Linked DNA regions of Homo sapiens. The protein of the gene in region 2 interacts with the protein of the main gene of each other region in a pairwise test. Each region holds a gene or a part of one and is shown on either strand. Other genes may lie near its edges. The genes, in order: ZNF250, HMBOX1, WT1, CDC7, SNRPB2, UBA6 and SAP30L.

Region 1 (4,455 bases), about 120 Mb from region 2:
GAACGTAACAGGACAAGGTAAGCAAAGGTATCTGACACACACCCAAACAGCTGGGAAAAAGGGGGAGCGGGGCAAGAGCTTTCCTGACACATTTGGTCCTGTACAGGATAGGGTTCGCAGTCTTCTGGAGCATCAAAAAGAAGATACTGTGACAGGGATACAGAAACCAACCAGGTGACCAAAGGTGGTAGATCACTCCAGAAAAACGTGGTATAACAAAGCAACCAATCCCCTCACATGCTTGGCTCAGATGGGCACCACAACAAACAGGGTGCTTTAAGAGTGACAAAATAGGTGTCAGGGCTGGGGGCAGAAGTCAAGGGACATCATAATCTCAGTGTCTATAAAACATCAGATATAGGTGGGCGCGGTGGCTCATACCTGTAATCTCAGCACTTTGGGAGGGTGAGGCAGGCACATCACCGGAGGTCAGGAGTTTGAGACCAGCCTGGCCAACATGGTGAAACCCCGTCTCTACTAAAAATACAAAAATCAGGCCGGGTGCAGTGGCTTATGCCTGTAATCCCAGCACTTTGGGAGGCCGAGGCAGGCGGATCACCCGAGGTTGGGAGTTCGAGACCAGCCATGACCAACATGGGGAAACCCCGTCTCTACTAAAAACACAAAATTAGCCGGGTGTGGTGGTGCACGCCTGTAGTCCCAGCTACTCAGGAGGCTGAGGCAAGAGAATTGCTTGAACTCAGGAGGTGGAGGATGCGATGAGCCGAGATCATGCCATTGCACTCCAGCCTGGGCAACCAAGAGCAAAACTCCATCTCAAAACAAAAACAAAAACAAAAATCAGCTGGGTGTGGTGGCGGGTGCCTGTAATCCCAACTACTCAGGAGGCTAAGGCAGGAGAATCACTTGAACCCAGGATGTGGAGGTTGCAGTGAGCTGAGATCATCTCAGCTGAGACTCTGTCTCAAAACAAAACAAAAAAAACACACATCAGATACATGTATATATTTGCACAGACAACTTTCAGGAAGATACACAATAAACTAACTGCCTGCCTCTGAAGAACAGGACAGGGAAACACAGTTGGAGAGAGACTGACTTTCAACCCTCCCCCGTGCTGCTGTTCTCCAAAAATGCCCATTCCCTCCAAATGTGTGTGTGAGCACACTTCTGTGTTAGCGCAATGCAACTCTAATTAGAATTCCAACAGAAGTCTTTTAAAGGAATGACTACAACTACTTGAGAATTCATAAGAAGAATGGATGCTAGAGAATAGCCAAGAATTTAACTGGAAAGAACAGAGGGTGGGGACTGCCTTGCCAGGAATCAGAGCCAAGGGTGGGTAGGAAGCCGCTGCAATTAAACCAACAAGTTGTTGACAGAGGAACAGATGAAGCCAGACAGGTATGTGGGAAATTGGAAGATAACAAAAATGTTACATTTTAGTTCAGCAGGAAATCAGTGGTTCCTTTAGTAACTTGTGTGTACCCAGATGGGATACATCAATAACCAATTTTTTTGTTTGTTTTTTTTTTTGAGACAGAGTTTCACTCTTGTTGCCCAGGCTGGAATGCAACGGCGAGATCTCGGCTCACCGCAACCTCCACCTCCTGGGTTCAAGTGATTCTCCTGTCTCAGCCTCCCAAGTAGCTGGGATTACAGGCATGCGCCACCATGCCCAGCTAATTTTTTTTGTATTTTTAGTAGGGACAGGGTTTCTCCATGTTGGTCAGGCTGGTCTTGAACTCCCGACCTCAGGTGATCCGCCCGCCTTGGCCTCCCAAAGTGCTGGGATTACAGGCGTGAGCCACCGTGTCCAGCCACCAATTTTTTTTTTTTTTTGAGACGAAGTCTTGCTCTGTCACCCAGGCTGGGATGCAATGGGGTGATCTTGGCTCACCGCAACCCCTGCCTCCCAGGTTCAAGCAATTCTCCTGCCTCAGCCTCCCGAGTAGCTGGGATTACAAGCACCCACCAGCACGCTCGGCTAATTTTTTAAATATTTTTAGTAGAGATGGGTTTTCACCATCTTGGTCAGGCTGGTCTCGAACTCCCGACCTCAGGTGATCCACCCGCCTTGGCCTCCCAAAGTGCTGGGATTACAGGCATGAGCCACCACGCCCAGCCCAACAATAACCAATTTTGGATTAAGATGAAGACCAAGTGTGAGCATTAACAGTGGCCTCATGTGCTCCTGGTCCCCCTGTCTGACATCTGCCTACCCTCAAGGGCAGAAGTGCCTTCTCTCCTGCCACACCCTGACCCTTTCCATGGGTCACCCACCAGCGCACAGATCTGCCATTTCTTTATTTTGAAACAGAATCTCGCTCTGTCACCCAGGCTGGAGTGCAGTGGCATGATCTAGGCTCACTGCAACCTCCGTCTCCCAGGCTCAAGCGATCCTCCTACCTTAGCCTCCTGAGTAGCTGGGACTACAGACACCTGCCTCCATGCCCGGCTAATTTTTGTACTTTTTGTAGGTACGGGGTTTCACCATGTTGCCCAGGCTGGTCTCGAACCCCTGAGCTCAAGTGATATGCCCCTCTTGGCCTCCTAGAGTGCTGGAATTACAGGCTTGAGTCACTGCGCCTAGCCCTGCATGCGAATTTGACCTTGGGTGAATGCACAGCTCTGGTCCCCTGGAAACCTGGCAGAGGTGGATGGTCATTCTCTCTACGGACCAATCACACCTGGGCTGTGACTCAATGATGAACAACCACAGGAAGTACATTCAGGGCCTCCCTAGCAGGTCTTGCAGCCAGTTCTCTTGACACAGGAGGTGCTGGCTTGTATGACCACGAGGCTTTCGACTAGGCTAACTCCTCCTCCTACCTGCATCTTGTGTTTATGCACCTCAGTACTCCCTGGATGGCTGCTGGATGATGCTGGCCAGCTTTTCCGAGAAGCTGCTGCTAGGCATGGTTGTCCTGTGAGTCTGAAAAGTCAGTTGAGCCCAGTAGCTCTTTTGGTACACTTGAGCTCGTGATCCCCCTTCCCTCTGACTCAACCTTTCAATATGGGTGTCTCATAGCATCTCAGACATTTAACATCCCAAACCAAGCACCCCCTCTACCATCATTTCTACCCCCAGCTTGGTCTGTGAGCCTGTGCATCAGCCTCCTTCCTTCTTCACTCCCACACTTCTATTCACCTTCCAAGCACATCCAGAACCTGACCATGTTGCCCATCTCGCCCTCCCTGCCCCATGACAACCACCCCTAGATGTTCGGCAGCTCCCATCTGGGCAGACAGACTCCCAGCACCGTCTGTCTGCCCAGCCCCTCCATCTACCTTCCTGTGAGAACACAGTGACTGTCCTCTGCTCCAAGGTCCTCCCAGGACCCCACTGGCTCCTATGGGCATGCCCCAAACTTTGTGATTTTCCTCAGAGCCCTGCAGCCCTTTATCCCTTGGCCTGTGCTCCCCATCCAACTCTTAGAGACCTCTGCCCCACCCACCGCAGCAGCCCTGGCCTCACCCAGCTCTCATCCTATCCCTTTCTCCTGCACCAGCAGACCAAGAAGCAGGCCCAACAGAGTAATCAGTGGTCGACCTTTTTTTTTTTTTTTTAATTACTTCTAGGCTAATGATTACAAATTGCCAGGCAATGTACTTTTTTAAACTTTTAATTAATTTCTTAGAGACGGGGTCTCACTTTGTAGTCCAGGCTGGAGTACAGTGGCTCAATCACAGCTCAATGCAGCCTCCAACTCCTGGGCTCAGGTGATCCTCCCACTTCAGCATCCCAAGTAGCTAGGAATACAGGTTGCACCACCATGCCTGGATAATTTCTTAATTTTTTTTTTTTGGTAGAGACGAGGTCTTGCTGTGTTGCCCAGACTGGTCTTGAACTCCTAGGCTCAAGGGATCCTCCCTCCTTGGCCTCCGAAAGTGTCAAGATTACAGGCCTGAGAACACCACACCCGGCCTGTTTGTTGAATAAATGAATGAAGAGGAATGAGCTCACACTTTATGCCATCTGTAATAGCCAAGTACGGAGTCAACACTTTAAACTGGCAGGCATGGGAAAGTGGAGTTTCTCATACTCTTAAGAAGGCGACCTAGCAGTATTTAGGCAAATCAGACTGGCCCTTGGATAGTGGGTACCTGATAAGAATGGATGTGGGTGAGGGTGCAGATTCAAGGATGTTGCTGAGGCAAATGCTACGTTGGTCCTTCCACATACAAGTTACACACCTGCTAAAGAGAAAGATGTATGTTGTGTCAGGTCACCAGATGGGTGAGTGAAAATGCAGCATGGGGCCAGCATGCAGGGGAAAATCTCATTTTGTAAACTATGACCCCGAGCCCATGAAGGGTATGTGTGTCACAAGGACCTGGGACTGGTTCACCTGCCTCACTTGGGCCAGCTGCATTGAGGCCCCACCTATAAATCCAGATGACACACTCCTCTGAAGGCCTGGAGATCATGTGGTTGGTGAGAGGAGAGCGCTAAGAACAGGCTTGGCTCAGAGGAGGATGCTGCTGGATAAG
Region 2 (4,455 bases):
TTATCCTCTGAACAATCCTTGTGCATAAGAAAATTAATTCAATTCTTACATGTTATCTTTTTCTGTTATAAAAGAATTGCTGGTATCATGGACTTAGATGACCTTTGTAGGTCATTTACTGCCATAAATTCGTGATTATATGCTTAAACTAGGTAAATTATGAGAAATAAAATTGTGAAATGCCGGAGTATATGCCTTTGTTTATATTAATACACATTGGAACATTATTCTCAATATCCAGGAGAGCTTCTAGACTCAGCGTTTTCTCAGTAAAATATTGTATCTTCAGTGTCACATGCATGCTTTGATCCTGTTTGTTATGCTCTTAATCACTTTGCTTTGTAGTGATCATATGAATGATCATTCTAGCAATTGTGGATCATTTTGCTTTAGGTTATATTTGCATTAGGAAACTCTCAGTGCAGGGCACAGACATCTAATTTGAACAAGGTGATACATAAAGGGAAATGTATTCTCTGATGAAACAAAACAGCAAGAAGAGCAGGGATATATCAGGGGCTTAGGGATTATTGGAACAAGGGATGTGAGTGCTGCAGAGCTTTCTCCATCGCTCTGTTCCACGTTTCTTGGTATGTCTGCTTCTTCCTCCCATGAACTAGCTGCTTCCATATAATGAGGAATTTACCAGACTAATATCTTCCTGCAACTGAACACAGTTATGGTGACTGTTCATCTTTCCCCTCGTCTGACTAGAAAATTATGGGGAGAGCAAGGTTTGGCTTTCTTCTGTGCTCACCCCACTGGCCAGAAGGTGGGGTATTACGAGTGATAGCCCAAGAACATGTGCTTGGAAAGAATGAGGTGTTCTAAGCAGACAAAGTAAATAGGTGGCCTATTGTTTCTCCTTTTATGACTTGGAATAAAAGTGGTTCTAATAGTCAATGAATCTGAAATGACACAAAATATTAGATTGTTTCATATGCTGTGAAATCTTTAGTTTTGACAATTCTAATTCAAGTGTTAGGATGGATACTTTTCAGTAATAAGTGAAATTCATACAATTTACTTTTGCTTTATGCTAATACAGAGTGCTGCTCCATACAAGGAATGGTTTGAAGAACTGTATATAGATAACTAACTGCTCTGATATGAATACTATAGGAAAATACTATGATTGGGGATTTTTGTCCATATAATAAAACAGTTATTGAAGTCATCTAAAGTAAGATCACTTTATGAAATACTTTGATAACATGAAGACTGAAAATAGCAACAAACAGGTCTACTTCATTTTCAAGGGAAAATAATAATGTTTATGTTTAATTTTTTTCATTACAAAATATTGTGGGGGAACTTAGGCCATCAAGAAAGAATATAATAATCATGAAAATAGGTCTTTTTAAAATCATGGCTAACTTGTTACAAGTGAGTATTGGAAGAAATCAGACCCTAACATTTGTAGGTGTAGAGCAGATACTGTGGCCCATGGGCACAAATGGCCTGCAACATGTTTAGGTCCACAGAATGTGTGTGTTTGGTTTTGTTTTATTTTTATGAGCTTGTTTTAAAAACCAGGAAGATTTCATCTACAGTTCTAGATTTTTCCCTACTTATTTTTAAAAGGATTTGAAAGATAAAACAATCAGTGAAATGGAATAGACTATCCAAAGGTAATGCAGATTCATATGGAAATTGTGTATATGATAAAGGCAGCATTTCACATCGGAGGAGAAGACAGATATTCAGTAAAAACATACGACATCTAGCTGTCCATTTGGGATGAAATAAAGCCCCAATTTTTTATACTTGTTAAGTCAATAAAAATTCTAGATGGAGCAAGGATTTTAAATGTAGAAAACTATTACTAGGACCCCTAGGTTCATCAGTAATTAGAATAGTTTTATCTAAATGGCTTTAAATGAGACTTAAAGGAGTAGAATAGCCTGTGTGCCAAATCATATGTTTCCAGTTAAGTCCTGCAATGTATTGTAAAGGAGAATGATGTGTGCTTTTGGAGTCAATAAGATCTAGGCTTAAATCTTTTTCCTACTGTTTACTCAGATTTTTTGTGAAGTACAAAACTACACTGAGCTTTAGTTTCCTCAACAATCAATCCATCAACATAAAATGAAATGAATAAAGAACATCTACCATGGGGAGTTGCTGTGAGAATTGGATGAGATTATGTTATGTGAAATTCGTACCCAGTTCCTGCCTAGAAGTGACTGTTAATAAAGTTTTCATGTAGAAGGACAAAGAAACAGTGAGACCTTCAATAGCTATAGGACACTGGCCCAGAGCAGATGTTTGTTTGAGAAAGATGAAGAAATTTCTTGACATCTGTTTCCATCTGCAAACACTTATTGAGAGCCTACTGCATGCCATGCATTATATTTGGCACTAGAACAATAAATATCAAAATAGAAGAGATTACAACTTTAAAAAATCTTGAATGGAAAACTCAGGTCTTATAAGAAAGGAATTCAAGGCCGAGCATGGTGGCTCACACCTGTAATCCCAGCACTTTGGGAGGCCGAGGCGGGCGAATCACCTGAGGTCAGGAGTTTGAGATCAGCCTGGCCAACATGTTGAAACCCCATCTCTACTAAAAATATAAAAGTAGCCAGGCTTGGTGGCAGGTGCCTGTAATCCCAGCTACTCAGGAGGTTGAGGCAGGAGAATCGCTTGCACCCAGGAGGTGGAGGTTGCAGTGAGCCAAGACTGCGCCACTGCACTCCAGCCTGGTTGACAAGAGCAAAACTCTGTATCCAAAACAACAACAACAACAACAACAAAGGGATTCAAGCAGTGAGAATTTTTATAGTATTTGACTACTCCCTTAATATTGTTACTCACCCTAAGAAAACATTTTCTGATGTGCTGTAGTATCTTGTGCTAGTTAAAGGAAACATGTAAAAGTAATTTCCTAAGAAAAATGAATAGCATTGTTTGGCTACAACCATGAAAGATCTATTTCTCAGGGTAGCTATTAAGAGAGAATGCATTACCAGAGATGGAAAACTTAGGAAATTGCTAAGTAGTGAATGAAATGGTGCTTATTTTTTTTTTTAATGTACCTCTGTTTTCCACTTAAGTATTTTTGCTGGTTATTAGCATTTGCTTGGACTTAGCTTAGCAAATCATTTGTTCTCACTAAATGAGGTTGTAGAGAATTCCTAGGTCTGTTTAGCTAATATTTGGTAAATAATATAATACAAACTATTTTTTTCAGTAATTTTCCATTAATACTCTAATGTAGAGTAATACACTTGAGATGGGCAAAACACTTCTGAGTTATCACGTAGCCTGGGCTTATTGCACTCCATGTACCTAATCTATTGTTCTGGTATTATTTACATAACTAAAATTTTGGTTCTGATATTTACCAAAATTGAGGAAAATGTAAATTGTATGCCATATGAAATTAGGTTTTATGTTACACCTATGTTCACCTACTAATACATTTAGTATCTGTACCAATCCATTTGCCATGGCACAATCATTCTAGCATGGGACATACCTTCATTTTCAATACAGAAGCTTATGTAGAAATATTGCATCTTCTGAGCATTCTGTATAATATGTGCTTTGGTAGATACTGTCAATAAAGAGACTTCTTTTTATCTCTTTTTTTTTAGTTTGCTGGAAACCATGTCTCATTATACAGATGAACCCAGATTTACCATAGAGCAGATAGATCTGCTTCAGCGACTTCGGCGTACTGGAATGACTAAACATGAAATTCTCCATGCCTTGGAAACTTTGGACCGTCTTGATCAAGAGCATAGTGACAAGTTTGGAAGAAGGTCCAGCTATGGAGGAAGTTCATATGGGAATAGTACTAACAATGTCCCAGCATCTTCCTCTACAGCTACAGCTTCCACACAGACGCAGCATTCGGGAATGTCCCCGTCACCTAGCAACAGTTATGATACTTCCCCACAGCCTTGCACTACCAATCAAAATGGGAGGGAGAATAATGAGCGATTATCTACATCCAATGGAAAGATGTCACCAACTCGCTACCATGCAAACAGCATGGGTCAGAGGTCATACAGTTTTGAAGCCTCAGAAGAGGACCTAGATGTAGATGATAAAGTGGAAGAATTAATGAGGTTAGTGACTTTGCTTATTCAGAGTCCCTAAAAATGTCTGTATTCTTAGATTGTTTTTAAGTAGTATGCTGCGTTTCAGCTACTTAGCTATAAGAACTGTAACTTCCTCTAGCTATAAGAACTGTAACTTCCTCCTCCCACCTTTGGAGATGAAAGAAAGAAAGTTCAAGCTTTATGTTTTTAATTTAAATTTTCTCTTCTTTACTTCAGCCCTTTCTCTTTGCTGCTTGACAAGCCTTTTCCATTCTGTTTATCAAACACTAATCTTCTCTATGACTCTAATAGCTAATTTCTGACTAACAGACACATTCTAATCCTTAAAAATCTGTTGTAAGTACTTTTTCTGAGGGATAATTTTATCTTGATCAGAATATGTACA
Region 3 (4,455 bases), on a different chromosome or scaffold from region 2:
GGATTACCCAACCTCCTGTCTCAGAATGGAGAAGCCTCACCCCTGTCCTCACTAGAGAAAGTTCAGCCAAATACTGGGACCTGAGCCCCAAGAGAAGTGAGCAACCCCAGGCCTTCCCACCTTCTTAGGAGAATCCTGAGTCACAGGCATCTGGGATGGAAACAAGCCATTCTAGAATCAGTCAGGTCTTTCTGTTGCAAAGGCAGCCCCCTGTTACCTTTCCAATCTCAAAGCCTGGGCTATTTCCCTCATGAATCTCTATTCCCCACTATGCCAGAGCTCACATCCTGAAGTCCTCCTTGCACTCTGCTCACACTAAATGTCCCCCATCCCTATCTCCACATCGAAAAGTCTCCTGGGTGTCTCCTTCTTCTGCAATGCCTGCTTGGAAACTGCATGGGCCAATTTCCCTTCCTTCCCTCATTACGACATTTATTCCAGGCTGTCTAATGTGGTGAGCTGTGTCTGGGTCTACAATTCTACAATTCTTCAATGGGTTGGAAAATCCTAAGGGCTGGAGCCTTTTTATTTTTATTTTTTCTCAGAGACAGAGTCTCTCTCTGTTGCCCAGACTAAAGCGCAGTGGTGTGAGCCTAGCTCACTGCAGCCTCGAAACCGTGGGCACAAGCAATCCTCCTACCTCAGCCTCCTGAGTAGCTGGGACTACAGGCATACACCAGCACACTTGGCTAAATTTTTAAAAATATTTTTTTTAGAGACAGGGTCTCACTATATTGCCCAGGCTGGTCTTGAACCCCTTAAGCAATCCTCCCGCCTACGCCTCCCAACATACTGGGATTACAGGTGTGAGCCACTGCACCTGGCCCCTTTCTTTGTATTTGTATCCAGGTTGGTGCCTTATGTTTCACCTCTGTGAGCTGGAGAAGATGTTACCCCTATTGAGTCTGATTTCCTTCCCCTGCCTTTGAGCTTCTGCTCATCTATCACTTTCTCTGCCCAAACTACCAGCCTCCACTGGCTAACCCAAGCTGTTCTTCCTCTGAGAAACTTTCTCGGATGACCTTAGTTCAAACTGATACCCTCCAAACCCCTCGGTACCTCCTGTCTCTGATTTAGTACATGATCATGTACTCTCTCAGTCACTTTTCATTTCTTTATATCCTAGCTCCCAAACAAACCAGGAACTCTTTGAGAAGGAGGATTATAACCTGCAGTTAAAAAGAAGGAGTTTGAGTCCTCTTTCTGCTATATCCTATACTCTTCATAAATGTTTTGTGAGTGAGGATTAAATGAAATATACATGTAGAGAGCCTGACACCCAAAAAGTACTTAATATAACAGTCTGTACTGTTGTTATAAATAAATAAGAAAATATTGCTCTCTTTCAAGGGGGACTGTAGGATTGTTAAATACCAACCTGCCCTCATCTTCTGCAAGGAAGAGTTTCTTAAAGGCTCCAGTGGGTCTGGGGTTTTGGCTGTCTTGTTCACTGCCTTCCCTTCACACAGTTGTCTAACCCTCACTGCATTCTAAGTGCTTCTCTCTCACTAAAAGTTTCTACAACCATATTGCCTTCATTTATTCCCTTGCATTTTTCAGGCAGGACTTTACTTTCTCGTTTTCCTTATAACCTTGACAGTCACTTTTCAAATGATCCCATTTGGGGAAATGTGTAAAAACATAACATGCCACTGGTCCCCTCCTTTTTAGCCTCAAAGTCTGTGGCCCACTGAGTGCAAACTCAGATTGACACCAGAATTGCATCCTCTGGACACAGTGAATTAGCAAATTTCAATGGTCCAAGGAAATCTGAATGCAGCTCACTTTTTTCTCCAGCTTCCCAAGAGCAAAATCAGCAGTAATAACACAGTTGCAACAGTGATCCTATAATAATGCTGTTCTTCGATTGTGGAAAAGGCAGCAGTAGCTCCTCTGTAGGAAAACCTGGGTTTTACCACACTCCCACACTCCCACCTAGTGCCCACAAGGCCCAGAGTAAACGTTCTGTGACATGGCTGTCCACATTCAAGGTGGCCAACACCAAACAATGCCAGTTCTCTGTTTCCCAGAAGCAGCCTCTCTGACCTGGGGGAAAATCCAGTTTCATTGGCGTATCTTCAAAGATAAAAAATCATCATCTCTCTCTCTCCTTTTTTTTTTTTTTGGCAGAGTCTTGCTCTGTCGCCCAGGCTGGAGTACAGTGGTAAGATCTCAGCTCACTGCAACCTCTGCCTCCTAGGTTCAAGCAATTCTCCTGCCCCAGCCTCCCAAGTACAGGTGCGTGCCACCACACCCGGCTCATTTTTGTATTTTTAGTAGAGACGGGGTTTCACCTTGTTGGCCAGGCTGGTCTCCAACTCCTGACCTTGGGTGATCCACCCACTTCGGCCTCCCAAAGTGCTGGGATTACAGGCGTGAGCCCCCATGACTGACCTTTTTTTTTTAAGTGATCACTAAAAAATCAAACTAACAATCAATTTTCCCCTTCCTGTCTAGTTGATTATTACTGACCCAAGCAGGTAAGTTTTTCTTTGGACCATCTCTTCTAAAATTTCACAATGATCTTGCCCATCGACCTCCTAAAACCATCTGATGACTATATTCCCAGGCCAGCTCCTCTCTCCTTAGAAATGCTAATAGTATTCTAACACCAACACGATTCCTACACAGGTCTCTTTAATTCTGTGGCACTTTCTCTCTACCACTCTGCTCTGCCTTTCTGGAAGACAGTTTACTGACCTCTGTAATAAAGGATAGATAATCAGAATGCAAAATGGCCCCACAGCCTCTTTACAACACCTGGATCAGACCTTTCAAAGCAGTGCTTACTTTCCATCCTGGAAATAACCTGGGTCCTTAGCAGTGTGAGAGCCTGGAAAAGGAGCTCTTGAACCATGTTTGCCCAAGACTGGACAGCGGGCACACTTACCAGTGTGCTTCCTGCTGTGCATCTGTAAGTGGGACAGCTTAAAATATCTCTTATTGCAGCCTGGGTAAGCACACATGAAGGGGCGTTTCTCACTGGTCTCAGATGCCGACCGTACAAGAGTCGGGGCTACTCCAGGCACACGTCGCACATCCTGCAGGCAGAGAGTAAGAGGAAGGGAGGCTTTAAGCCACATGTGAACATTCACGTAGGTCTTGAGGGAGAGTGAGCACTGGAGTATATCCAAAGAAGGGGTGGCAGGTGCAGACCTAAAACCACTCCCATTCACACTCCAGATCCCCATGGCAGACATCAGTAATGGATGCTAGATCAGGACATTCTACAATGCAGTGCTCTAAGATCATCACTACTGAGCAACCAGAAGTGGCTGTTGAGATGAAACCTACATGAAATGGCTGTCCCAGAGCCTCTGCAAAAGAAATGCTGGTACCTGGAAGAGCTCCCAATCCATTCTATCTCTCAGCTTCTCCTCTTGAGGTAGTGATGTCTGCAAGTCCAAAGTCCCAAAGTCTAACTACTCCCTCCCACTTGGAGTCATGACCACATGACCTAGAGCCAGTCTGCAATGGGTGGGGACATCCTTATTAGAAAAAAGTGGGATAATGAATGAGCCCCTAACTGACCAGATCGTCCAAGTATAAGTAAATAACAAGGAAGAAGAAGCCCCTGGATTTGGGGATCCCATCTGTGAAAGGAAGCAAAACCCACCAGAAGGCCATGGTGAAGCCAGCACAACCTTTAATAGTGAGGCCAGAAAGCACTGGAATCCATCTGCCTTCTGTGCTCTGCACACGTCCTTTGCAGGGCATCTGTTGCTCCCCTTTATCTTGTGGAAGTGCAGTGTGTGTGTTGTCAGTCTTCCAAGAATAAGAACTGGAGGAAAACAAAGAGGCAAGCTCCCCTTCCTCTTCTTGGGGTCAGGGAGTCATAAATGGGAGCTGAGCAAGTGCCTGAGTGGCCACTAAATTCTCCTCATTCCTTTATAGATGAGTAAATCAACCCCAAAGGCGGTGAGATGCTGACACAAGAGTGCATCCATGTTTTGGTTTTGTTTGTTCTTAAGACAGGATCTTATTCTGTTGTCCAGGCTGGAGTGCAGTGGCACGATCGGGGCTCCTGCAGCCTCGACCTCACCAGCTTAAGTAATCCTCCCACTTCAGCCTCCTGAACAGCTGGGACAACAGGTGAGAGTCATCATGCCCAGCTAATTTTTTTTTTTTTTTTTGGTAGAGATAGGGTCTCCCTATGTTGCTCAGGCTGGTCTCAAACTCTTGAGCTGAAGGGATCCTTCCACCTTGGCCTCCTAGAGTGCTGGGATTACAGGTGTGAGCCACCATGCCTGGCCTAAAGTGCATCCATGTTTTGTGCTAAGACCTGGAACCACTTCTGAATATAACCAACTCCTTGCCCTGTGCATTTTCCACTCTACCCCATGCTTATGTTCTAGTCCCTATTTCACATTGCCCTGCACTGAAAGGTCATTTTCTTTTTTGGAAGAATAAATGCTGCAGTGACATACAACACAACATTGATGTTAATAGGCCATA
Region 4 (4,455 bases), on a different chromosome or scaffold from region 2:
CCAGGATTTGAACCCAGGCATTTTGCTCCAGATATATGTTCTTAATCACTATGTTACACTGCTTCATAAAAGAGGAAAATAGGACAAAGGTGATTTCTATGATTTTGAGCCTGAGTAAGAAAACAATAGAGATACCAAAAAATGAGTAGAGAAGCCAGTAAAAGAAGCATCTAAAACCAGACCTCATCATTTTGATAGAGTTATCTAGACAAGGGACTAAGCCTTAAGTGAGAAGACAAGTGAGAAGTCAGTGAGAGTACCTGCAGAGAAGTGATACCTACAGACATGAAAATTAATAGCGAGAAAAGAAAACTGAGCTTGGAAGAAGCCAAGTTAGAGAGCCAAATAAGAAAGGAATTTTGAAGGAAGAGTTATTAGCATGGAAGTCAAAGAGAATAACAACTGAGGGAAGGCTTTTAGTTAGGCAAAGAATAATTAACTGGTAATTTTTAAGACAGCAATTTAAGTGGAAAGGAAGAAACAAAACAGAAGGAAGGAAAATATAACACAATGGAAGCTGAGCCTGAAGACAATTTGCCTGACTGCATTGTAAGATCAGATGAAGGCATTTTTAGCATGTACTTTTTTAAGCACAGAAAAAGAAAAAGTGGTAGAGGGAGACAGTTAAAAATATAGAAAAAGAAATGATCATATTTAGGGTACAAGAATGTATGCAAGCATTCTTTATAGAGGCCATCTCATTTTCTTGTCTTCTATAATACACAGAAGGCTGAAACAAACAGGCTTATTCATTCATTCAGTATTTAGTTGGCACTGTTATTTGCTGTTAGGGATTATAGACATTAGTGATGCAATAGTGAATAAAATTTACAGAATTTCTGTCCTCATGGAGTTTACTATCTAGTGGACAATACAGATAATAACAAGGTAACTTATAATGACAGAATACGATAAGGGCTTTGAAAGAAATCTAAAGATGCTATGACAATAAAAAAAAATAGGAGAATCTAATTTAATTCAGAGAAGACATCTTTCAAGCAATGTCACTCTTTTTTTTTTTTCTCAGAGGCAGGGTCTTGTTTTGTTGACCAGGCTGGATGGAGTGCAATGGAGTGATCGCAGGTCATTACAGCCTCAAACTCCTGGGCTCAAGCGATCCTCCTACCTCAGCCTCCCAAGTAGCTGGGACTACAGATGTGTGCCACCTTGCCTGGATAATTTTTAAGTTTTTTGTAAAGATGGGTTCTTGCTAGGTTGCCCAGGCAGGTCTCAAACTCCTGGCCTCAAGCAATCCTCCCAAAGTGCTGGGATTACAAGCATGAACTACTGCGTCCAGTTTCACTCTTGCTCAGATCAGAAGATGAAGGGTCAGCAAGCAATGACTGGGAGAGGTCTTCCTGAATGGGGAAACAGTCTGGGCAGTGGCCCTGAGGTAAGAAAGCTCTTGAGACAAATTTGATAAACTAAAGAAATGGAGCACAGTGAGGGAGGTGGGAAGATAGGCATGAGAAGGTTGAATTTTTTTTTCAAAGTACATAGGGAAACCACTGAAAGATTTTAAGTGGTGGAACTAATGACCCAATTTAAGTTATATACATATATATTTTATATTTTAAAGATCATTCTGGCTGCTGTGTAAAGACAGAATTAAGGGGAGAAGGAAGAAGCAGGCTACAGTCGTAGTCTAGGCTTCATCTGAGGTAGTGGCAGAGAAGACAGAAAGACATGGATGAACTTCTAGATATACTTTAGAGCCAAAATGGCTAGGACTTAGTGATTAATGTGGTTTAGGAGAGAAATAGAGAAAATGAGGATGATTTCTAGGTTTCTGGCCCAAACAAGTGTGTAGATGGGCCATTTGCAGAGACGGGTGGATAAGAACATTTGTTGTGGTGTTTTTTTTTTTTTTTTTGGTATGTTAAGGTTTAGGTTTGTCTTTTAGGTTTGAGATATTTATCAGGCACCAAGTGGAAATGTTAAATAGGCAGGTGGATATACACAAACCTGTAGTTAAGATAAAAGGTCTGAGATTAACTATATACTTTTGGGAATCATTACTTTAGATCATGTGGAAATGGAGGACACTAAGAATACAGAGAAACCTAAGAGCAAGCACGAGGAACTCCAATATTTAGGGGTCAGATAGAAGTGGAAGAGCTAGCAAAGACACTGAAAATGAAAGGCCAAATGAGGGAAGAAGAAAACAAGGAGGGTGTGGCAGGACAGAAGTCAAGACAAGGGTTCACGTCAATTGTGTTAAATGATGCCTAGAGTAATGATTGACTCTATAGTTTCCAGTTTAGCATAGAGAAGAACAGCCGCAATAGGTATTTAGTGAAAGAGAGGTGTGGAATGAAAACAATGTATGCAGATAATTTTTGAGAAGTCTGGCTGTAAGGGGGAACAAAGAAATGATGGAGCAGGTGGAAGAAGGAGGGCAGTTTAGGAGGGTAAGATTCTAAATCATGTCCATATGTTGACAGAAATGACCTAGCAGAGAGAAACCATACCAGATGATTCTGTTATTCTAAATAAAATATTAGATGAGGTCGTCAATAGCTGGGGAAATGTGAAATGTGAGTTCCCTACATTTACAAAATAATGTAAACCATGAAAGCCAAGGTTTATGATTTGGCAGGAAGGTTACAAAAAGCAGTGATAAAAGACAGGAAATCAGGTCGAGCCTCAAGGGAAATCCAATCTAAAAGAATTACTATAAATTTAACTAACTATTGCAAGGTTAGAAGGAAAGTGCTAGCAAATTGCAAACACTTGACTGAAAAATGTATTTAATTCACATATAATCCCCTCATCCCTGCTAAATATCTACTTTAAAATCTTATAAATTATATACAAGTTCAATTAAAATATGTTTAAATTGCCTACCCAGCCACTGTTAGGCACTGAAGTTCAGCTGCAATTCTTATAGGATGACTTGTTGGAATCAAGTGTTTTAGAGCAATTTTCTCTTCAGGTCCTACTTGTAACTGTGCTGTGGCCAAATAAACAGAGCTGAAAGTGCCTGTAAAACAATTTATTAAATTTTTCAATATCTGGTTTTTAAAAATGTTAATGAAACAATTCTAAGATAGATTGTAAAAACTGTTTCAATGGCATAATACATTAAAACAGGACTTCATTTTACAGTAAATATTTATTATTTATTCTTTCTTTAAGGTTGAAAAAGAAAAGCTGTTACCATAATTAGTAATAAAACTATGGTCTTAATAGTCTAAAAAGTGGTATATTTTTCAATAAGAAATAGTAATGAAAACCAAGACTAAAAAAGGAAAATAGAATGGAAAAAAGACCTCGTAAAAATAGTAAAAGCATATCCCCAGATTACCTTCTCCAATTTTGTCCTCAATCTTAAACACATTACTAAGCTGTGGTACAGCTTCATAAAGCTTCTCAATATCTTTTTTAACACCTTTCAAGGAAACAAAAATTTAGAGTTTTAATCAATGACAGTATATTTTACAGTTTCTTAAAATTTAAAAAGCTCAATGAAATAAATTATAAAATATGAGTAATTAATTATACATAAGTTTTAATAACATTGTGATAAGATTAAAACCCATCAAGTTGCTATAACTCACACACACCTCTTGAACAGACAAAAATGACAGTCCCAGAATTAAATACACCAAATTTCTACTATACTGGAATTATATACTAAGAGATACATTGTTACTGTAGAGATTACAACATGAAAAAGCACCAAATTTTTAAAATAACTAAACAATTTGTGCTGTGATCACTAGATGGCATGACAAGGACACATTGCGATGTTCTTGAAAACTATTTCCCGTAAAGATACAAAATCTTAAAGGCTTGGTAAAATTTTATGTATTAAATATTCACACTATATTTTCAGAGAGAAGGCCTACTAAAGCTCTCAAGCATGTAAAAAAGTATTTTTAAAAATTTGTCCCAATTGCCAGTAGTATCCTCTATCCTTGACTGCAGATAAATTGCTACTTTTAAATAAGTATCAGTTCTTTATAAAAATGTACATAGTTAAAACAAGGGGAGGCAATAATACAAAACCCAGTAAACTACTGGATACAGAAGAGAACTAGATAAGTCTTCAGATTTTATTACAGTATCTAGGCTCTACTAGCCCTATATAGCATAAGTTTAAGACATTTTCAAAGCACCGGCACATGCAGTATCTTTTGAGGTCTTCCTAACAGTACTGTGAACTTGGCAGAGCAGGAATGATTATCCTGATTTTTCAGATAAGGAAACTCAATTCAGGGAGGTTAAATCATTTGCCCAATTTCACAGAGGTGTTGCTGATTATATATATTTTCTAATTTTCTTTCTTTTTTGAGATGGAGTCTCACTCTGTTGCCCAGGTTGGAGTGCAGTGATGTAATCTCCACTCACTGCAACCTCTGCCTCCTGCGTTCAAGAGATTCTCATGCCTCAGCCTCATGGGCAGCTGGAATTACAGGCACGCAACACCACGCCCAGCTAATTTTTGTGTTT
Region 5 (4,455 bases), on a different chromosome or scaffold from region 2:
ACTAAGCAAGGCAGACATTCAAGTAAAGACACTGAAAGTCTGGAAAATTACAAATCTCTTAAGTGTTTAACAGTATATGAAACAATTATGTTTTAAGCTTCTGGAGGTGAGTCGTGATTGGAGAATTTTGTCACCTGGATAACATAATCAAAGATCTTAATAAAATTAGAGATGGCCAGCAATGTCACCCCTCCGTAGCTGGTTACCACACTCAGTATCACTCAGATACTCAATTCCTCTGTACTGTTACTACTTCCCAGCATACTAAAAAAAAAAAAAAAAATTGGAACTAGAAAGATTACCACCGAGAACCACTGCTTAGGGACTTTTAATTTACTTATTTTTGGCAAATAAATGAGATATACACAGCATCTAGTTACATACAAACAAGCAGTAACAAACACTTAGTTTATTAGATATTACTCATTTGATATCCCACCCAGAGGTTATGGGGAACTAAAGAAAGGGTCTTCTATATAAGAAAAGAGCTCTGTCTTCCTGCTACTGTCATAAAAGAGAAAAGAGCAAGTATAAAAAATAATTAGTGAACAACTCAAGGCTTAGAGGATTAAGTGCTGGCATTTGTGAACTGGACTATAAATGCTGAGGAGATAAAAAACCCAAGTAACTTAAAACAAGAGGAGAAAAACCTCAGTGGTACAGAGAATTCTATGGATTTAAGGATCTTGCCAGACCCCGCCATCTGGAAAAAAAAAAGTATGAAACCATCAGCACATTACTGAGGCCTTCTCTTTGAGGTATGTCATGGGGAGATTTAATACGGAGTTTCTAAAACATTTGTACAAGGAGGCTTAAAAAAAAAAGGCTGGAATTTATTTGTGTTCAGGAAGTGAGAGCAAAGGTTAACTATAAAACTATGTGCCCAAAGAGTGTAACACTGTAGTGTTTCAACCAACTGGAATGGAAGAGAGCCCCTGACCCTGCCAGTTACCCTTACCCATGCAACTGTGTAAAGCTTTAGGTACTGTAGAGGAAACCAAAATGTTTGCTCCCAGCCCTTAGAGTTTAAAGTCTGTCATTTTGATTCTGTCATTGATTCATTATGGAAAACAAGAAATAAAGTCAGGTGTCGTTTTCTCTCTCTAAAAAAGAATTAAAATGTTCTTCAGGAGTTGAGTTCTTACATTGCAGTGGCAGACAATTTAACGCACTGTGTCTTGTAGATGAAATCATTTTGTTTTTGGAGACATGGAAATTGTTTTATACCACTGCTGTAATTTTTACAATCTTATTTTAAGGTAAGCACGACATGGAAAAAAAATTACCTGAGGATTTGGTGTTGAATTTCCTTGGGTATTAGCTGAATTTGGAGTTCCCTAAGCAAAATAAATAGGGAGAGTTTAAATATCCAATCCCTCCAAAAACGCAGCAGGTATTTATATTTATAATTACTGCATTAAAAATAACATTAATTCCAAGAGATATCCTTCTTACTCCATTTAATTTTACTTTAAGAATTTATATCTTAACACTGACTCAAACACTCATGTTCTTAATTTGTCGGTTATTTTTGTTAAGACCAGCCCTAAACTTTAAATAGTATATTATAAAATTTAACCTCTTAGCTTTAAAATTATGGAGAAATATATAAGAGAAAACCAAGGCCTAGTCTTACTTTTAAAAACAACTGGACATAAGTCATTTAATAAAACTGACTTTTAATCACTTTCAATCCAGAAGTAATTACTTTTTGGTGAATTTCACTTTTTTTTTTTTTTTTTTTTGAGATGGAGTCTTGCTCTTGTCACCCAGGCTGGAGTGCAATGGCATAATCTTGCCTCAATGCAACCTCTGCCTCCCAGGTTCAACCAATTCTCCTGCTTCAAGCCTCCTGAGTAGCTGGGATTACAGGCATCCACCACCACGGCCAGGTAATTTTTTGTATTTTTAGTAGAGACGGGGTATCACCATGTTGGCCAGGCTGGTCTTGAACTCCTGACCTCAGGTGATCCACCCACCTCAGCCTCCCAAAGTGCTGGGATTATAGGCATGAGCCACCATGGCGCCAAGCAGTTCATTTCACTTTTATCTGGTATTTCAAATTATATTTTGCATTACTGAATTGTTCAAAGAAAGACACTGTTTTTTTTGTTTGTTTTTTGGGTTTTTTTTTTTCTTTTTTTTTTTTTGAGACAGAGTCTCACTCTGTTGCCCAGGCTGGAGTTCAGTGGCACAATCTCGGCTCACTGCAAGCTCCACCTCCCAGGTTCATGCTATTCTCCTGCCTCAGCCCCCAGAGTAGCTGGGACTACAGGCACCCACCACCAAGCCCAGCTAAATTTTTTTTGTATTTTTAGTAGAGACGGGGTTTCACCGTGTTAGCCAGGATGGTCTCGATCTCCTGACTTCGTGATCCTCCTGCCTCGGCCTCCCAAAGTGCTGGAATTACAGGCAAGAGCCACTGCGCCCAGCCAGAAAGATACTTTGAGTGAAGTACTCATGATTAAAGATAATAACTACAGTATTATTTATAGGCAGCAAAACTTGAGAAATAAACCAAAAGGTATTAACATATTTTAAACAATGATCGAATTAAATGCCATGCAAATATAAAACTGCTTAATATAAATCTCCATGTTAAGGTTTATATTTTGTTTCTTAATACTGAATTTTATAAGTCAACCATTCTAGCTTCTTAAAACCACCTTTTAAACACACATTTATGCACATATACAGACAAGCCTAAGATCATTCCTTACCTGTAAGACAAGCATCTATCAAGTTTTTAACACCAATACAAACAGGAACTTTCTTGGTCTTTCTTACCTGGCCAGGCTTTTTGTTTGTGGTTGTTGCAGTCTGTTCCACAGTTTTGGCTTTTTTCTTTTCTTTTTTCTTTTCTTTGTCAGCAAAAGTTCCACGCATTTTTGATATTATATCCGAATCTGTTTTTGCATACTGTATTCGCTGTTTTAATTATTTGAAAACAGGTTACTTCTCATGCTGAAGGATGTTTACACTAGTCATTAATATTTCAAATTTCATTACGCAAATACACTACAAGCTAATTTTAAACATATCCCTAAGAAAATCTGTCAGAATATACTGAGTGCCAAATGGAAGTAAACTGTGGGCTATAATTCATAATTTAGACAAAGTTAGATTCAAGTGTGTTTATTAGATTAAAAAAACATATATTTTCATGTGAGAAACACAGGACTTTGAAATATCTGTACCACGGCTTCTCTCCATTTAATCAAAGAATAGAGAAAACTGCATTGAAGTGTTAAAGGAACAAATGAGTGGGCTCCACCAGCGGGCTTTGGAATCCTGAACTGTTCAAATCTCCTCAGTGCCTGAGGATCTGGCTCAAGATCAGCTATTCTAATCCAGAGGTATTCAACAAACAACATATAAAACAAACAAAAGCAAAACTGCTCAGCTTGACATAGAACTGTGGCTCCAGAGCCCACTGGAGGCCAAATGCCCTTTCCTCTCCAAACCTACCCTCACCCCACAGTCACAGAGGGAGCACCTAGGGATGCAATTTGAGGGAGCTGGTGAAAAATAAAGAAAATCGCCATTCTAGACTAATCCTGTTTTACAGATAGAATAGGCCCACAGAACACTAGGGCTGGTTTGGCAGAGTCCCCACAGAACAACTTTTCTGGCAGAAAACTAGATGGAAAATTTCTTTTAAACCATTTTTAATGAGTTTATTTGAATTTTTTTTCATTTTTTAGAATTCTAAACATCATAAATGTGAGGATTTAAATAAAACTTTTTTGCATCGTAACTTTTTGGATGTACAGCTCTGAGTTGTAACATTTGTAAAGATTAATGTATCTACCACCACAATCAGGACACAGGGCAGTTCTATCACCTAAAAATCCCCTCATGCTTCCCCTTTGTTACCCCACCCCTCCTCTTCCAAACACTCATCTGTTCTCTGTCCCTGCTGCCCTTTCCAGAATGTCACATAGATAGGATCATACATGATATAACCTGGAGGCTGCCTTCCTTTACTTGGCATAATGTCTTTGAGATTCATCTATGCCGTTGCTTTTAACAGCGAGTAGTATTTCATCGTATTGATGTACCAATTTGATTTACATCATTCAATGAAGGATACTTGGTTTGTTTACAGTTTTTGGCGATTAGGAATAAAGCTGCTATAAGCACGTGTGTTTAAAAAAACAGACACACACAGAACAAAAACAACAACAACAAAAATGCATTGGAGAGTTGCCTTCCCCTTACCAGTGACTCTCAATAGAAGCATTGACATGTGTCGCAGCTGTGGAATGTGTCATATGGAATGTTACTTCCAATAGTTAAAAGTACAGAAGACTGGGAATGACTTTCCTTTGAATCTATCACCTTTACATGAAATGACTTTAACAGTGGAATCAACTTACTAAATTTTAAAATGTTTTAAAAGGAAACAAAAGAATGGAATCACAGATAATGTGACTGGACCACTTGCATATGCCT
Region 6 (4,455 bases), on a different chromosome or scaffold from region 2:
TGGAAACATGGGCTGGGAACCTTCTTTGGGATTTCTGTTTATCCTCACCCTATTTTTATTCTTTATAGGCTATAAGTCATAAACATTGTGTTCTGCAAATCCATCTACCTGGGCAAAATCAACTGCCCTACAAGTCTTTTTTTTTTTTCCTAAAATAAAAACGCAGAACGAAAGACTGCACACGTCACTTCTTTCTTGAATTTTGCAGGGAGGTGGTCATTACTCCACCTTTTCTGGTATAGCTAAATTTTGTGGATGATTTTTAGAGAACATACAAGAAAGGCATATACTGAACATGTAAAAAAGAAAAAAAAGTTTTCAAACTTTTTTATTTACATTGCCTAAATTTCATGTTCCATCTTTACCAATACTCCCTATTGCTTTTTTTTTTTTTTTTCAATGTATTTGCCTGGCAAAATCCCAACCCTAGTTATATCCAATTTTCCATCCATTATACAGTATAATACCACCCAAGCAGCTAAATTCTGGCTGGAGAAAAGATCATTACCCTTTCTCCAGCCACATTTAGTAGGATACATTAAGCAGATTAACATTAAGTGGATCTTCAGTATTGTCTTGCGTTTTACTACATCTTTTAATTAAGTGACTCTTCCACTTCACTGGACAATTATTTCATACCTTCTTTTCTTTGCTCTTACTTCCTTTATCTTCTTATCCCCTTCACTCTGAGCTACTAAGCTAGCTTCTTATTTCAACTAAGAAAATATTCTTTCTTTATCATAGCCCCAACTATCTCTGTAATTTCCTCATTTAAGACTCTTCCCCTTGTATATTCTCTTCTAGACGAGTCCTGACCTTAAAAGCTTTTCAAGGCCTTTCTCTGCACTTATTTCTGCTGCCTACATTGCTCTTTCACTATTCCTTTACTTCCTTCAGGTTTCTGCTAAAATGTTACTGTTATCAGAGGTTTTCCTCACTTCCATCCCATATAAAATTATACCAGCTCCATCACTCTTTCTTTTCCCTGTTGTATTTTTCCTTCTTAGCACTTACACTCACACTGCAATATTATGTACTTATTAGCATTTTTGTTTATAGTCCCTCTCCGCCCAAAATACATTGGTCCAATGTATTTTATACATTCCTTCAGAAGGTATTATTATGTTATTCATGTATGTATTTTATTATCTATCTTCTCACAAAGGCATGTAAGCTCTATAACAACAGGGGATCTTTATGTATCTTGTTCACTGACAGAACTCCAATATATCTAATTTTTAATACCCACAATGATATAGTGGGCATAAAAAAATATTAACTGAGTAGCTCATACAATCTAAGTCTATACTGATCTTTTTTAAAATTCCACACTAGAATAAAATTAGTATTAATCAACAGTTTGTGATTCTGACAAATCTACTTCAAACTCAAGTTGCACTGACAAGAGCAAGAGCAAGAACCATTCATTGTGATATTCTCCAGGTTTAGAATGGGACTTGGTACAAGTCCAAATTCCCAAACTATTTGCTGAATGAATGATTTTTTAAACATACCTTATTGGAAGGCTTGAATTCCTGAATCTTTACTTCTGAAAGAATATTCAAGAGGGCATCTGCTGATAAGTCCTGTTTTTAAAAAAGTAATTTTACCAACAAACATATTCTTCTAAATTCTAAAGCTAAAAATATCCTACAAAAGGTCCTTAATCATATTACAATATATGAATATTTCATTATCTGAATATGTAGACATCCATTTGAGACATTTATCTTTATTTCTATAAAAATATCCCCCCATAAAGGTTATGGGGGAGGAGAAGGTAAGGGGTAAAAAAGTACTTATTAGTCAACAAACTTGAAATTTTAGTCCTTCTGCAAATTTTTTAAAAGGCATTTTTAGGACTGGTTGTAAATATAAAACTGAGTGACTTGATCAGTCAGTTTTAATTCCCTTAGCTTTATGTTTTATGTTTTTAATGTTTTACAAAGTTCCCTGAAGTAAGTTATACTCAATAAGTAAAATAAGTAAATGGAATTCATACCTTAAGAAGGAGGGAGATATTTAAATGGTTAAAGATGAACTTATATGAATTTAAAGCTATGGGTTGTATTTACATTTGTCATTGAGAAGTTGCTTGGCAAAGGCTGAGACTTAGTGCTTTTGAGGTCAATTACCACACTCACCACTAAATTACCACTGATTTTCCCAAAAAGAATATCAGACTGAATGCCACTATTTTTACCAAATATTTACAGTTTATTTGTATGAATTCCAAAAAGGATTAATCTAAAACAGATATTGTTATCTGAATCCAAAACAGCCAGTGTTAATTATGGGATCTGATTCATGTTTCTCTATTTAGCCCACCTAAAAGTACAGCAATTTACTTAGCTAGAATATGCATTTGTGAAGAAAAGAGATGCCTCTCAAAACCGTATGAGGCTCTTTAGATGTTAGTCAATGAAGATGATGTTTAAGAGAATGAGTATGATGCTAAAGTAAGAAATGTCAATATAAGGGAGCATTTTCAGATTTCCTGAAAAGCACATAAATTATCACAAAATAACAAACAAATGTTAACAAAGAAAATCTCTACGCAGTATTTCAAAATTGCGATGAAATGGTTTGCTGTGGCTTTTTAGAATAACTAGGATAACTGAAGCTGCTAAGCAGGTTATAAATATTCTTAAAACAAAGTTTAACTGCTTTTAACAAATAATGCTGTTTCACTGCTTCAATTCAGAAGGAAAAATCCGACTTCTACTTAGCAATACTGCAATGAGCTTTTAGCTTCCATTATGTTAGTATGGGTAAAAATACAATAAAAATTCTGTATCAAAAAGAGTGATTCTTATAACAAACAAACATGTTTTGATGCAATTAGTGCATCAGTCATCTAATTCTAATTTGGTTTTGCATCACTTGCTAAGGCTTAAAGAATATCTTACCTCTTCTGCAAATGGAATACAATATACTGTAGCATATAGTTTTGCAGCATTCTGAAGGAAACTGAGGTGCCTTTTGAAATTAAAAAATAAAGCAAAATTTGAATGTACAGTTTTAAAGACGATATTTAACTCATTATGAACTATAGCCTTTAAATGTAGTTTGAAGAAATATAACCACAGAATTATTATTTCAAGTTTTTTTTTTTAAGTTAGACAAAAATATTCTGGTCTACACCAAAACACTACAGAAGTTATAAAAGACAAAACATCAAACAGTTATTCTCAAAAACACTTAACATTCAGGTAGTGATCATGACTACCTTGGGAAGAGGAGTGAGTGGACAGAACCAGAAAACTCAGACCAGTGAACAATAATTCATTTTAAGTCATAAGAAATATTATACATTTGGTCTTAATGAGTATATATCAAGTTCAAACTAAGTAAATGTGTTTATTTAAAAACAAAAAAAGAAAGTCTTATAGAAGAAGCAGTCCAGCATAAGGTGACTGGAAGCCTAAAACCACCACCAGATGAGAAAATTAAGCATAGAGTTATCTGCTGAAAGGAAGGTTAGTGAATGCAAGCTAAGTGTTTAAAAATATATATACATAAGGTTGGGTGTGGTGGTATGCACCTGTAATCCCAGCTACTTGGGAAGCTGAGGTGCGAGGATTGCTTGAGCCTAGGAGTTCAAGACCAGGCTGGGCCACATATGTGAGACCTTGTCTCTTTCAAAGAATAAAAACTAAATTAAAAAAATAGAAAAAATATACATATACACACAAGTGTGAATCTAATGTGTATCTAATATAGTGTTTCCAGGTATTCACACAAAGACCAACTCCTCTGAAAATAATTTGAGATTTAGGGAGTTATTCAGTAGTAATTATTTGTTCCTCCATATAACTGAAGATTCTTATATTTGATTTCATTAAATGTAAAAACACATTGTCATTTTACTAATTTATGGATAAAGTAAAAAAGGTGATTTTGGTTTCACCTTAGATATTTATTATAAATAATGAGGTTATTTACCATGTAAATGAATGGATTCACATTTGTGTGGGAAGGGTTGTGGCTGGCTTTCTTGGTCAGAATGACTTGTTAACTCTTAAATGAACAGGGATGAAATAATTTAACATTAAAGAGCCTAAGGTTTTCACTCTGCAATGTACAGTTAAGGAATTTACAGTAAAGAAATATATAATGAAGGATACATAAAACTAAATATAAATACTTACAAAGGCTCATTTAAATCAAATTTTATTGGAGAGGGTGGCCTCTTTGGTGACTGCCAAAATAAACCTGGCAAAAAGATACAAATATCATTTTCAATGTATGTAGCCAGTAATAAATGTCATTAAAATTTATTCTCAACATTTATACTTACTGCCATCTTTTAATCGTATGTCCAGAGGGAAACAGTGAAGAAGCTGAAGAGCCTAAAGAAAAAAAATGAATTAAAGACACCCACTACTTAATATTATCTGAGGAAAAATTAAAAAATAAAATTAAAAAATGTGTGTAGTAAATATATGCACATGA
Region 7 (4,455 bases), on a different chromosome or scaffold from region 2:
AATGGAAATATCTGAGAACAAACAAGGGTCTAGACACCAAGGTGATCCCTCCTTAGGTCACACGTTGAGGTGAAATGCTTATGGCAATGAATTCATCCACTTAGAAACACTGCCTACCTTCCGTGTAGGTTGTTAGAAGCTGCTTTACTTGAGCAGCTTATAATAATAATTTCCAGTCCTTAAAAGAATCTTCCAGTCCTTTTAGATCACTGGATGCCTTCCCATCTGAATGATTTTGCTGCTGCAACTGGGACTCCTTTTATTTACCCATTGACTGTACTGGAAAACCTGTGTTGAGCTATGCTGATCATTTCACACACACTGTCTAGAAGAAGGGCAGCCTGAGCCTAGCATTAGTGTTCCCAAAATGTAATACTTCTGAGGTAGTAAGGTTTCCAGGTGGAATCACTCAAAATTTGTTTTAAGGTGGTGTTGTGGAGTCATTATTTCTGAAAGGGATTCTATTTCTTTCTCACAGGCTTGGGCAGGAATTCAATTCCAGGTAACTGGTATGTTACAAGAATTTTTAGCTATTGCAGAAAGTGAAGGAAAAAAAAAAACTAGAGCCTTTGCTACCACCCTCCTGCCCCAACCCCACTCCCAAAGGCCACTGAGCTCTGAAATTTCTGAAAACCAGTATGTACTTGAAAATGGTTAAGGAGAAAATGATTATTTATCTTGTAAGAGAGTCTAGCAGAGAACCTTTTTAAATAACAACACCAGAAATTCAATTCAGGCTGTTTAACTCATTTTATATAGACTTTGGCAGTGTTCTGTGATCTGTTAAAATACTAATATACCTCCAGTTGACATATTTCTGCTTTTTTTTTCCTGGAGAAAAGTGGAAGTTGAGAATAGTATAAAGGAAAATGCTGGAGTAGGAAAAGACATGTACTGGGGGGGCAGAAGGCCTGGGTGACCTTGGCCAGGTCATTTCCTCACTCTGGATGGCTTCATTTTACCCATTTAGAAAACGGATTGGGGTCAATGGGATTGCACTAGTGATTGCTAAGTTCTCTTACAGCTAGGATTCCGTTATTCTATTGTCCTGATCTGAAATCTCCCAGCCAAAGCTTTAGGAAGCCACCTATTCTCCCTGTTCTCCTATGAAGTTTGTTACTGTGAACTTGAGGAGCAGTTGATCTGAGTGGACTCGCCAGTCTAGCTAACATGGAGGGCTAGCTTCCTCTCAGGGATGCAGAGTGTGCTTTGTTGTGCTTTCTTCCTGGAGAAAAGCATGTCCAGTAGTATATACATCAGCTAGGTGGGATTCTTTGGGACAGTGGCATGTGCTGTGTTTGAAAGTCCTTTGACAGAGTTGAATCTGACAAAGCTATCCCAGTTTGTAACCATGTTAAGTGGTGGCTTTCATTAGCCTTAAGCCACTTTTAGATATAGGAGACTTCCTATATTGGTACATCAACATTTTTCGAGTACCTCCTGTCTGCAAGACACCATCACAGTATAAACTTAAAAGTACTTATGACTCACTAATCCAGCCACATGAAAGTGATCATTCATCTGAATAAATAAATAAACAGTTTTCATTATTTTCTCCATGAAAAGGTCTGAATTAATTGATGCGGATTTCCTGCCAGCTTACTTTTATCTTTAAGGATTTAAGGAATAAACTCAAATTCAGAAGTCTCTGCAGAACATTTGTGCAACAGCTGTTTCAGTATCAACAACCCCAAGTCATTTGCTGGGCATTCAGTTTCTGTAAAGTTTTTCAGTGGTTCCTCCAGCCAGCCTTGGAGGATTCTTCATGTCTTAGCTGTTGCTGCCACCTTCACTTACCAGTGTGCCTCCAGCCTGTATTAGAAAATCTGTAGTATCCACCTTCTTGTATGTGGTTCTACCTTGTAAGAACTTCCACATCTTTTTCCACTTTTCTTTGTGGATCAGATGTGAGATAATGCAAGAATTATAAATTGACACATAGAAACAAAGTTTTTCAAAGAGTTATTATCCTACAATAGTAGCTATTGTAATTGTAAAAATAGAGTGTCCCAAATACCGTTGCAACAGTCCCTTGTGTCCTGCTTTCCTCCTCCCCAGGACAGTACATTCCAGTCGACTATAAGTTTATGACTCCTACAGGTCTTCTAAAAATGTCACATCACTTCCTGCTTCCTTGAGGGACTCTGTCTTGTCGGAAGGAAAGTCTAAGCTGTTCTCATGCCCACCCCCCTGATGCCTCACTTTTTCATTATGCTCCTACATGGGCAGCCATCATCACCCAACTGACACTGTACCCTGGGCCTCCTCACTCTTTCTGTCATCCTCCATTGGAAACTCTAAAGTCTTGGCACTCCTACCCATCTGGAATGCTTCCTGTCTGCCTAAAGTCCTCCCTTTTAGTCAGGGCCCTTCACCCTGAGCATCTCTGTTGCAGGGATCTCTTCCTTTGCTGAATCTGTACCATTTACTGTCTTCACCATTCACTGGAAGTTTGGTGTATGATACGCTGCCAAGTGTGATGTTAGCATTCTCTTTGTGTTCTGCAACTCAGTAGTGAGCTTCTGGGAATGATGGCCTACATCTTGTCTTCCATCTATCTCTCCAATGCCCTGCAATGGAAGGAAGCCCCGCAATTCGACAGATACCTATTGCTGTCTCCAAGGAATTGGCCAACTCTGACTTTGATTTTTGTCTCCATCAGGTAAGGCACCTATATATCTGTGATTTTCACAAAAATTTCATCCAGAGTGTCCGAAATAAAAGGAAGAGGAAGACAAGTGACGATGGCGGAGATTCTCCCGAGCACGACACTGACATTCCTGAGGTAAAGGTCAAAGAAACCAGTTGCGGAAGCTGGAAGAATGGATTCTAATCTGATTCTCACCTCTGGCCTGGTCTGCTTTTTGTGTTAAGAAGTAATTTTAGTCCTTTTGTTTTGCTGTGGATTATTTGAAAAGTGAATTATAGTAATATGGAATCTGAGAGCTAAAAGCTTGGACACCCACTGGTCAGACTGCCCCATCATTTTACAGACAGGCACAGAGAGCCGAGGTCATGTATATAGTTTGGAGGCTCTAGTCTAGGGCCCTTTCCAGTAGACCACACTGCTTTTCTGCAAGACGCCCCTGACGAATGCGTAAATACAACCACAGTGTCACTTTTTTTTAAACCTTGTTTATGCCTTTAGAGAGTGTATAATGGTTTGGGAGAAGTCTTTTCCCCAAAAAATGAAGGTGTAAGTCATCAGTTCATACCAGCTCTGATTTTCTCTCACTGATTTCTTGACATCTAGTCCAGGCTGTTCCCAAGGATCCATTTCAAAGTTGACTAAACTGGACCCGGTTTTCTCAACTCTAGCACTGTTGACATTTGGGGTCAGCTAATTTTTGTTGTGGGGACTGTCCTCTGCATTGTAGGATATTTAACAGCATGCCTCAGCAGCATCCCCTCGTGAGATTCTACCCATCACCACCCTGAGTCATGACAATCAAAACGTGTCTCCAGACATTGCCACACCTCCTTTACAAGACAAAATCGTCCTGTGTTGAGAACCACTGCGCTAGACCATGAGACCTAGGCTTCTCAAACTGGAAGGCTGCCTTCCCTTCAGGTGCCCGTGTCTATTAAGTGAGGCTTCAGGAAGGAATATTGGATTTTCTTTCTACTAAATTGTTTTCACTCAAGACTCAGCAAGAGAAGAACCGTTTATAGTGTACATTGAATATTTGACACATGAATATTTCATAAGGCAACCGCCTGTTAGCACTCAGAGTGAAAATGACTGTGTAGGAATAGAAAGAGTAGGCGGGCCTTTGTCTGCAGATGTGGAGGAAACCGTTGAAAATCTGGCCCTTTCCCTCTGCCCCTCCCTGTGTCCCCTTTTCCAATGTTGGTTTACAGAATCTTGCTTTTGCCTTTAACGTTATTGTTATTTTACAAAGAAATGGACGTATTCGATTTCTAAGTGGTTTTCACCAAAAAAAAAAAAAAAAAGGTTTTGAGGAATGTTTTGAAAAAGAATGAAGGACTTTGGCCCCTCATATTGATCATTCATTTTGTTTTTAAGTGCTCTCCACCTGCCTGAAGCAAGAACAGCTCTTTTAGAGGCAGGTAAAGGCAGCCCAACTTTATGGGCCTTCAATTTTTCATGACTATGCAGCTTTCCTCTCTTCCTTTGTTAGAAACAAAAAGGGGGGGTCCCTTCCCCTCTGTTATCCAGTCATCTGCAAAGACCCCAGCCCTAACCTGCTGGATTGCACATTCACTACAGTAACTTTTGAACTTTCTCTGGAGGGAGGTTAAGGATTCTAATACCAGAAGGCTGGGCCTAGCAAAGAGCTATTTGAGGATAACAGCCCTCCTTTGTGCTCCTCTATCCGGTCGCTGCCTCGTTCTGGCCTATCATCCTCCAGGATGTCTCTGGTTTTTGCCTTTGCTCTCCATCTTTGGTGTCCCTTCTAGCATCACTGCCCCTCCAAAGCTCAGCCTCTTCAT

What was found.
Region 1: the proteins of HMBOX1 (region 2) and ZNF250 interact in binary tests that used the Homo sapiens proteins (3 or more experiments, as listed by UniProt).
Region 3: the proteins of HMBOX1 (region 2) and WT1 interact in binary tests that used the Homo sapiens proteins (3 or more experiments, as listed by UniProt).
Region 4: the proteins of HMBOX1 (region 2) and CDC7 interact in binary tests that used the Homo sapiens proteins (3 or more experiments, as listed by UniProt).
Region 5: the proteins of HMBOX1 (region 2) and SNRPB2 interact in binary tests that used the Homo sapiens proteins (3 or more experiments, as listed by UniProt).
Region 6: the proteins of HMBOX1 (region 2) and UBA6 interact in binary tests that used the Homo sapiens proteins (3 or more experiments, as listed by UniProt).
Region 7: the proteins of HMBOX1 (region 2) and SAP30L interact in binary tests that used the Homo sapiens proteins (3 or more experiments, as listed by UniProt).

Annotation. Positions count from the first base shown.
Region 1 is NC_000008.11:144,891,075-144,895,529, forward strand, and holds part of ZNF250 (zinc finger protein 250), read right to left. Parts: intron 4,159-4,455; exon of another isoform or gene 4,069-4,158; intron 1-4,068. UniProt on the Homo sapiens protein: May be involved in transcriptional regulation.
Region 2 is NC_000008.11:28,966,444-28,970,898, forward strand, and holds part of HMBOX1 (homeobox-containing protein 1), read left to right. Parts: intron 1-3,599; coding exon 3,600-4,076; intron 4,077-4,455. UniProt on the Homo sapiens protein: Binds directly to 5'-TTAGGG-3' repeats in telomeric DNA. Associates with the telomerase complex at sites of active telomere processing and positively regulates telomere elongation.
Region 3 is NC_000011.10:32,393,367-32,397,821, forward strand, and holds part of WT1 (Wilms tumor protein), read right to left. Parts: intron 3,042-4,455; coding exon 2,891-3,041; intron 1-2,890. UniProt on the Homo sapiens protein: Transcription factor that plays an important role in cellular development and cell survival. Recognizes and binds to the DNA sequence 5'-GCG(T/G)GGGCG-3'. Regulates the expression of numerous target genes, including EPO.
Region 4 is NC_000001.11:91,506,790-91,511,244, reverse strand, and holds part of CDC7 (cell division cycle 7-related protein kinase), read right to left. Parts: intron 3,392-4,455; coding exon 3,308-3,391; intron 2,984-3,307; coding exon 2,848-2,983; intron 1-2,847. UniProt on the Homo sapiens protein: Kinase involved in initiation of DNA replication. Phosphorylates critical substrates that regulate the G1/S phase transition and initiation of DNA replication, such as MCM proteins and CLASPIN.
Region 5 is NC_000020.11:16,735,734-16,740,188, reverse strand, and holds part of SNRPB2 (U2 small nuclear ribonucleoprotein B''), read right to left. Parts: intron 2,929-4,455; coding exon 2,788-2,928; intron 1,338-2,787; coding exon 1,287-1,337; intron 1-1,286. UniProt on the Homo sapiens protein: Involved in pre-mRNA splicing as component of the spliceosome. Associated with sn-RNP U2, where it contributes to the binding of stem loop IV of U2 snRNA.
Region 6 is NC_000004.12:67,627,557-67,632,011, forward strand, and holds part of UBA6 (ubiquitin-like modifier-activating enzyme 6), read right to left. Parts: intron 4,353-4,455; coding exon 4,301-4,352; intron 4,216-4,300; coding exon 4,152-4,215; intron 2,980-4,151; coding exon 2,910-2,979; intron 1,587-2,909; coding exon 1,515-1,586; intron 1-1,514. UniProt on the Homo sapiens protein: Activates ubiquitin by first adenylating its C-terminal glycine residue with ATP, and thereafter linking this residue to the side chain of a cysteine residue in E1, yielding a ubiquitin-E1 thioester and free AMP.
Region 7 is NC_000005.10:154,448,429-154,452,883, forward strand, and holds part of SAP30L (histone deacetylase complex subunit SAP30L), read left to right. Parts: intron 1-2,662; coding exon 2,663-2,785; intron 2,786-4,027; coding exon of another isoform or gene 4,028-4,045; exon of another isoform or gene 4,046-4,071; intron 4,072-4,455.